Regions from separate parts of the Homo sapiens genome. Here region 1 is linked to region 2. Evidence: fine-mapped expression QTL. A gene starts in region 2. The other region holds a variant in brackets. All regions are shown on one strand. Distances are between the middles of the regions. Region 1 overlaps EFS (embryonal Fyn-associated substrate). Region 2 holds the start of PPP1R3E (protein phosphatase 1 regulatory subunit 3E).

What was found. PIP is the estimated chance that this variant, and not a neighbour inherited with it, causes the effect.
Region 1: its variant is the best candidate, but not a certain one, in a credible set for the expression of PPP1R3E in whole blood (TOPMed, PIP 0.58).

The regions. Positions count from the first base shown.
Region 1 is chr14:23,353,119-23,357,430 of GRCh38, reverse strand. It overlaps EFS (embryonal Fyn-associated substrate), which reads left to right. Exons shown (of 6, transcript NM_005864.4): 6 at 1-1,025. The coding sequence ends at 205. Among named protein-coding and RNA genes, the nearest start is that of SLC22A17, 2.4 kb to the right of the region's middle. The variant G/A (reference allele first, on the strand shown) is at 2,279.
Region 2 is chr14:23,300,508-23,304,896 of GRCh38, reverse strand. It overlaps PPP1R3E (protein phosphatase 1 regulatory subunit 3E), which reads left to right and starts at 2,038. Exons shown (of 5, transcript NM_001276318.2): 1 at 2,038-2,737; 2 at 3,039-3,599; 3 at 4,033-4,139. The coding sequence starts at 2,321. The coding sequence ends at 3,461. RefSeq lists silencers at 2,252-2,761, 2,842-2,901, 2,912-3,341 and an enhancer at 3,402-3,591.

The DNA of each region.
Region 1 (4,312 bases), 53 kb before region 2:
GGCAGCCTCTGCCCCTCTGAGAGCACAGGTCAGGGCTGCAGGTACAGCACTGGGCCAGGCATTGCGGGCCACTGTGCTGGCTGTCAAGGGAGCTGCCCTGGGCTACCCATCCAGCCCTGCCATCCAAGAGATGGTGCAGTGTGTAACAGAACTGGCAGGGCAGGCCCTGCAATTCACTACCCTGCTCACTAGCCTGGCTCCATGAAGGTCCTTTGGCACAGCTCTGCTCCTCCCCTGCCTGCCAAAGCCCCCCTTTAGGCCTTGGGTGGCTGGAAGGCTTTGTTAAGGGACTAGGAGAAATGGGGGTATCTTTCCCCTTTCCTGCCCTTTCTGCTCATCTCAACCTCTCACAGAGGTGTCTTCTCCCCCTAACCTACAGCTTTTTGTACAAGCCATTTTGTGTAAATTATTTATATTTAATATTATTCCCTGCTTTGTCAGGAGCAGGTACTAGGCTCTGGGGCAGTGAGGAACTAGATCCTTCTCTCCTCAGCCTAGGGTGGAGGTCACTGCACTACCACCCACCTCTGGAAGACTGGCTGTGAAAAGTCAGGTGGCAGAAACCTGGGGCCACATAGAGCCTCTCTCTTTTCCTGTTTCTTGGCTCTAGAAGATCAGCACTGCACTGTTAGCTGAGAGTGCGGGCAAGACATAAACTGTCCAGAGTTTGAAGGTTCTCGGAAAGACCGGAGGGCTTCTCCCCACAGAAGGCGGAGAGAGCTGGGGCTCAGACATGGGTGTGCACCTTAATAAACCCTGCTGTCTGCCTCCCTGACTCTGCTTCTTGGGAGCATGGTGAGCAGCCCTGGTGCTCAGCAGCCATACCTATGGGACACACACTACGAAAAGGATGCCTTTAGGGTTTGGGGGAGATTTTACTCCTTTCTTCAACAACTATTCACTGGACAAGTTCTCTGCTCCCATGACGCGCCAGGCACAGTTCTGCAAGTATATTGTGAATGTATTGTTCTAGTGGGATACACAAATAAGTCAGTTAAAATACATAAATAAAAACATAAACCTGCCATAGATTCGACATTTGCTGGTGATGGACGTCGGCAGGATGATTTGAAGAAACTAACTAGATGAGGGGAGAGGGCAGTGAAGGAGACTTTAGACAGGATGGTTGGGAGGTGAGATCTGAACTGAAACCCAGAGGAGGAGAGTCTGAGGACTAGTGTTCCCAGAAGGCAGATGCCGATGACTGACCTGAGGGCCTTCCTCCAAGACTTCATTGTCATATGATGTCATTAGAGAGGTGTCAATGTGGAGAGAAGCTGACCACATAAGGGCCTTGAAATGTGCCATCCTGGAGAGGCCACCCCAACTAAAGGCCCAGCCTCAGCTTTGCACCACAGGATAGCCCTGGCCAACTGGAGACTGCTGCTGGCCAGTCTAGGCACCCTCTTCCTTAGGTGACACCAAGAGGGTATAGGCCTTTTCACTTGGCTTCCCAGGTAGATCATCTCAGGATGACCTGCTCATCATCCTTCTGGACAAACCATTTTCTGGAGGATCCGCGGTTGCAGATGAATGCAATGTGTTGAAAGGTCAGTCTTCAGGACTTTGGTGAAATTGATAAGACCGTGGCTTAGATAGATCACGCTAGCCATTTACCACAAGGGAAAACATCCAAGCTACAAATCAATTGCTTCAGTTCTGCTTTCCCAAGATATTACCATGGCATGATGACTGGATTGGGGGCATAATCATAGTCTGTTGGCACCCCTGCACATTTGCCTCCTCCCCTTTAGGTTCCTTTCTCATCTCACTCTCAAAGAAAAATGCACTGTCAGATTCTGGGGCCAACAAAATTCACCCCCATGTGTTGAAGTCTATCGTCCATCATCTTCCAAACAGAATTTCAAGAGATTAGCCTGGAATTAGAGGTTTCAATTCAAGTCTCTGATCTGCCATGTAGTTGTGCATCCATGGGTAAATCATGCCAGTCCCTCTGAAGTCCTGGTTTCATCTTCAATATTAGCATGATCATAATGGTCTTACAGGGTTATTGTGAGGACCTAACAAGAAAATGCATGTGAACAGCCCCACAATGTATAAATTAAGTGATTATTATTCCAGGACAGACACAAGGATGCAGACGATAAATCCCCAAGGAATATTGGCTATACAGCACCATAGTAAAACCTGAAGAGATGCTGAAATGAGTTGGGAGAGGGGAAGTGGTAGGAGGCTGCTTGATGCATTAGCAAAGAAATGTTTCGGAGGGATGCAGTGACTCGCACCTGTAATCCCAGCACTTCGGGAGGCTGAGGCC[G/A]GAGTACGGCTTGAACTCAGGAGTATGAGGCCAGCCTGGGCCACACAGTGAGACCCTGTCTCAACAAAACATCAAAAAATTAGCCAAGTGTGGTGGCACATGCATGTAGTCCCAGCTATTCAGGAGGCTGAGGTAGGAGGATTGCTTGAGCTGGGGAGGTGGAGACTGCAGTGAGCTGTGATCAAGCCACTGCACTCCATCCTGGGTAAGACAGTGAGACCCTGTCTGAAGAAAAGAGTTTCCCATACGTGGAAAATTTCTGAACAGAGACAAGTTAAAAGTGTGGTTCAGTGGAGAGAAGGGGGAAAGATTTCCCGGCTGACAATGATAGAACACTGCTTTCTAGCCCTTACCTAGGATTAGAGAATAAAGTACCTATCAGGTAACAAATCTCTTAGAGATGTGTGTCTCTACCTTTAATGTATAATACCTATGCCTGGAGATCTGGATAAAATACAGATTATGATTCAAGGGTCTGGGTGAGGCTTGGATTCTGCATTTCTAACAAGCTCCCAGGAATGCTGCTGGTCCATGAACCACACTTTGAGTAGCAATTCTAGAGGTTAGGGAAGACTCCTGTGTAGCAAAGATGTTTAGGCTGAGAGCTGAAGGATGAGAAAAATGTGACTAAGAAGCTTTTTAGGTGCAGGAACCAGCTTGTTCAAAGGCCTCGTGGCGCTGGGAAAACTAGAAGAAGGTCTGTGGCTGGAGTGCAGAGAGTTTGGGGAAAGAAGTGAGATGGAACTACAGACAGCATGTGACCAGGCATGTAGAACCATGTATGAGGTATCTAGATTTTTAATATTCACTTTGACAGTGAGGAGACACCACTGAAGGCTGGTTAGCAGGAAAGATACATGATCAGATCTGTATTTTGAAAAGATCATTCTATCTGACTATAAATGACATATGGGTGATAAGGAGGTATAAACAAAGCGGACGCTGAACACCAGTTAGGAATTAGGGAGCTAAAGTGGTCTTTGCAACAGGTAGCTTGACTAATAATGGTAGAGATGGAGAGATGTGGGATGTCTGAGAATATATAGGAAGTAAAATGGGCAGAATTTTGTAAAGAATTCAACATGGATAAGGAAGAGAAAGCTCTAAAGGCTGTTGCCTGAGCATTTGGCCACAATGCGATGTTGAGGGTGCCATTCGCTGCAGAAAAAAGCAGTGGAAGCCAACCAAGTTATGGGGGAAAAGCAAAAATTTCGTCTTGAACATATTGAGTTTGAGGTCCCTGTGAGTCATCCAAGGTGAAGGTCAAATAAGAGGTGGCTTCATAGGTCTGGAGCTCAGAACAGAGGTGGAAGCTGGAGATGTCAGTCTGGGCGTCAGGTTTGTATTGTTTGTATGGGTGGTGATTGAAGCTGTGGGCATAGGTAAGATCCCAAAGTGGAGACAGTGTGAGATGAGAGGAGGGCCTAGGACTAAGTCTGTGAGGATTCCAGACACTGAACCATGGTGTCTAAATGATACAGACGGGAATGGCCCTAGAAGCCAGCACCACAGCCTCATCACTACCAATACAGACCCCTCCTGCAGTTGCGTCACCCCGCTGGACTTCAATCATTGCCTCAAGAACCGGGAGGATAATGGCCTGCCCATGCTCAGCACCAATGCCATGAGCTGGAAGACGATTTCTGCAATGGAGAAAAGGGGAGCAAGAGAGACTCAGCAGCAAAGGAAGAGAGTGTTTAGAGGAAGAGGGGTCAACAGTGCCAAATGCTGTTGAGAAATGGAGATTCAAACAGGATGGGAGTGATGAAACCCAAGAAAGTGGTCTCCTTGTAGAGGACTGAAGCTAGGGCTGATACAGGGCCAAGACAGTCTTCCATATGCATAAGTTGTACTGTAATAGCCAGTTTACATGTCTGTCTCCCTGGAGTAAAGGTCTCCAAAGTGGAACTTGTCCACCCTGTTATCCTTAAAGTCTAGTGCAAGTCCTGGAACGTAGTGGACACTTAAATTTTACTGATTAGTGAATGGGTGAATGAATGAATGAATGAATGATGGCAAATGATTGGAAGCAGA
Region 2 (4,389 bases):
TCAGCCTCCCTGGTAGCTGGGACTAGAGGTGTACTGCACCATGCTTGGTTAAATTCATTTTTTATAGAGATAGGGATCTCATTATGTTGCCCAGACTGATCTCAAACTCCTGGGCCAGCTTGATTGTAACATAAATTAATGTATGATTTATTAGACATTAATTTATATGCATTATATATATTATATTGTATATGCATATACAATATATACATTGTATATATTGTATCACATATAATGATACGAAGAGAATACATCCATGCATTCTATATACGTGTAAAATTTAAAAAGTCAATATTGCTTTAAAAATGAGTCCTAGCTAACTAGTATTGCTACAGTCAATACTAGTGCGAATGCATGTAAACAGGAATGAATTGTATAATAATAAGATAACATGTGTCTCATGGTTTATTTTCAACTTAGTCACTTGTGGTTTTACAGTTAAACTATCCTGCTGCTTTAAATTTAGAGACTTCATTTCTACTCTAATATTCCCTCTTTTAACACTCTGAGGATGTTAACTATTATTGTTAAATGTTTTAATCTTATATAACCAAGCGGGTAAGAGCGTGGACTCTAGAGCTAAACTGTTTAGGTCCTAATCCCACCTCCCCAATTATTAACTATGTGACCCTGGGTAAGAGTCCTCTCCCCTCTCTCCCTCAATTCTCTCATCTTTAAACTAGACATAATAGTCTCTATTCCTCTGATGGTTGTATTACATGGGTTAGTATTTGTAAAACCCTTACAACAGTACCTAGCACATTGTAAGTGCTATATTAGATCAGTAGGAAAGTTAGAAAAAAACTAAAAACAACTTCACTTTTTTTTTTCACTAATGTTAAAAAAAAAAAATGAAAGGGGAAAAAGCCAGCTCTGCCCTTCTTGGAAGCTCCCACTGGACCTATAATTCCACAGTCCCAACTCCAAGAGAGTTGTTGGGTGCTTGTTCATTCAATAATTTGAGTGCCTACCATATACTAAAACTCACCATGAATCAGACAAAGCCCCTGCCCTCAAAGGGCTTACACTTGGATTAGAAATCAGAACTCCACCACTTTTTTACAGATAAGAACACTGAGTTCAGAGTATGGCTCTGAGTTCAGGGGTGGCTCACACCTGTAATCCCAGCACTTTGGGAGGCCGAGGCGGGCAGATCACCTGAGATCAGGAGTTCAAGACCAGCCTGGCCAAGATGGTGAAACCCCGTGTCTACTAAAAATACAAAAATTAGCCGGGCGTGGTGGTGGACGCCTGTAATCCCAGCTACTCAGGAGGCTGAGGCAGGAAAACCGCTTGAACCGGGGAGGCAGAAGTTGCAGTGAGCCGAGATCACGCCACTGCACTCCAGCCTGGGCGACAGAGCGAGACTCCATCTCACACTCACACACACACACACACACACACACACACGAGAACACTGACTCCAGAGAAGTTATGCCTTGCTTGCTCAAGGTCACTAGAAGCTAGGTCTTCCTGCAGTTCTCAGTTCGGGTGCCATATTCTCACCTTCTATTTGAAAGACTCTACCTAGCTTTCATGACCTTTCCTTCTTTGCACGCACCACCACCCCCTGCCCAAACCAGGAGCCTAGGTTTCAGAAAAGAAAACAGTGAACCCCAAAGATAAAGTCACATGCTGGGCGTTTTGAACCTTCCCCTGCAAGAAAATGAAAGGTTATTTTTTCTTCCCGGCGTTAACCTTTCCTGTGCTGTGCCGGAAAAGTTGAGGACTTTTTACATTTTATTATTATTATTATTGTAGAGATCAGGGGTCTCACTATGACGCCCAGGCTGGTCTTGAACTCCAGGCTTCAAGCGATCCTCCCACCTCGGCCTCCCAAAGTGCTGGGATTTGAGGCGTGAGCCATCGCGTCCCGTCCGTGGATGTTTTTTTTAAAAGGTTGAGTAGCTTCACTCGGGACCGCAAAGGTGGAGTCCCCGCCCCCTGGTGCAGCAGCGAAGACAAGCGGAGCCACCTGTCAGAGGGCTGTGGGCGGGGGCGCCCGGGCCGTGAGGGCCTTGGAACCGGAGGGTGAGTGCAGTTGAGCGCACGCTCAGAGCAGACCGCTAGCAGGAGGCAGGATGTGATAGTCTAAGACCCTGGAAGCTGACGGCCAGAGGGAGGGAAGGGTGGTCACAGAGGAGAGGCAAAGCAACGGGAGGTGGAGGATCCTGGAGGTGTCTGCAAGGAGAATACACAGCAGCGAGGGGCTGCAGAAGCGGACCCAGCGACTTCTGCGCTGACGCGGGGCGGGCGGGAGAGAGGAAGAGAGGGGAGCGCGGTGGCGCTGCGAGCTGGCCCCGCCGGGGAAGGGGCTGCCATGTCCCGTGAGCGGCCCCCGGGCACCGACATTCCCCGCAACCTGAGCTTCATCGCCGCGCTAACGGAGCGCGCCTACTACCGTAGCCAGCGGCCCAGCCTCGAGGAGGAGCCGGAGGAGGAGCCAGGCGAGGGCGGGACGCGGTTCGGGGCCCGATCCCGCGCTCACGCACCGAGTCGGGGCCGCCGGGCCCGATCTGCACCAGCCGGAGGCGGCGGGGCCCGGGCGCCCCGCAGCCGTAGCCCAGACACCCGCAAGAGAGTGCGTTTCGCCGACGCACTGGGGTTGGAGCTGGCTGTCGTGCGCCGCTTCCGTCCCGGTGAGCTGCCCCGGGTGCCCCGCCACGTGCAGATCCAATTGCAGAGGGACGCCCTCCGCCACTTCGCGCCCTGCCAGCCCCGCGCCCGCGGCCTCCAGGTAGGCGGCGGGGGCACCTCCCCTCCTGGGGACCTCCTCCAGTCGGCCGCAGCGGGCTTGTGGGAGTGGATTTGCCAAAGAGCACCCATCTCCATCCCATCCCTGGGCTTGCGCCTGCCCATCCCTTTTGGGGACCCCATCTGCGAGTGGCTCTAGGCCACCCTGGCAGCTGGGCCGCACTCTGCCGGCCTGGACGCCGGGGTCGGCCTCTGATTGGTCCAGTGCCTTGCTCTGACACCGCCCCCTGTCTCTCCCCTCTCTCCGCCCTGGGCTCCCTCCTCCCGCTTCTTCTTTCCCCCAGGAGGCGCGCGCCGCCCTGGAGCCGGCCAGCGAGCCCGGCTTCGCCGCCCGCTTGCTGACGCAGCGCATCTGCCTGGAACGCGCCGAGGCGGGCCCGCTGGGCGTGGCCGGGAGCGCGCGCGTGGTGGACCTGGCCTACGAGAAGCGCGTGAGCGTGCGCTGGAGCGCCGACGGCTGGCGGAGCCAACGCGAGGCGCCAGCCGCCTACGCCGGTCCGGCCCCGCCCCCGCCGCGCGCCGACCGCTTCGCCTTCCGCCTGCCCGCGCCGCCGATTGGGGGCGCCCTGCTCTTCGCCTTGCGCTACCGTGTGACAGGTCACGAGTTCTGGGACAACAACGGCGGCCGTGACTATGCTCTACGTGGGCCCGAGCACCCGGGCAGTGGCGGAGCTCCGGAGCCGCAGGGCTGGATCCACTTTATCTGAGACGAGGCGCCTGCGGCCGACGGCGGAAAACACCAAAGGCACCCGGGGGCGGGGCGACCCGATGTGGCGGGGAGGAGTAGGAGAGACCAGGATTGGCGGGAGCGGTCCAAGGGAGTCAAGCCGGGGAGGGCGAAAAGGGTGGGGAAATCAGGGGCGTGGGGGCGTGGGGGCGTGGGGGCGGGGGGAGTGAGCGGAACCAAAGAAGCTCCGGGAGATCCGGGTGTTAAAAGCTGGTTGGATGTGAGTGGAAGGAACTCAGAATATAGGAGGAAGGAGACCCGAAACGGCACCGGAGGGATTATAAAAAAAGGAAAAGAATGGGGATGATGGTGGCCTTCCCTTCAGTGAGTGGGCTCTGGGAGAAAGGGAGGAGGTCCATCAGGCCTAGGCGGTTGAAGAAGGTTAAGAACCTTTTGGAGATGGAGGAGGTATGATGTGAAGTAGCCCACCCAGTCGAAGGCATTTACATTGCTGGCGCATTCCCTCTTCTTACCGGCCTTTTCCACCTCAGATCCCCCTGTCCTACCCATCCTAGCTTTAACTCAGCCATAATTGCCTTGCTTAATCCCAGGAACCTGGCCACTGCTCCTTGGTCCTTGGCATTATGACGGGATTCCCTTGTCACCTCTGACAGTTCCTGGCTGCGGTGTCCGCGGACTGGCTGGGGAGTGATGACAGGTAGCTATCAGAGCTCCAGCCTCCAGGCAGCTTTAGGGATTAAAACGGAGGCCAAAGCAACTCCAGACCTGTTTTTATAGCCAAATACTGAGCCTCAGGGGTTGTACACTCAGGGGCTTCCAGGAAAATGCCAGCCTTACTTTTCTGGGGTGCCTTTTAATAACCTCCAAGCACTTTGTGGACTGTTTGTCGAGGGACGGTGAATCAGAAGAATCACTATTCTGATTTCCTTTGTCTCCGAAGAGGAAGT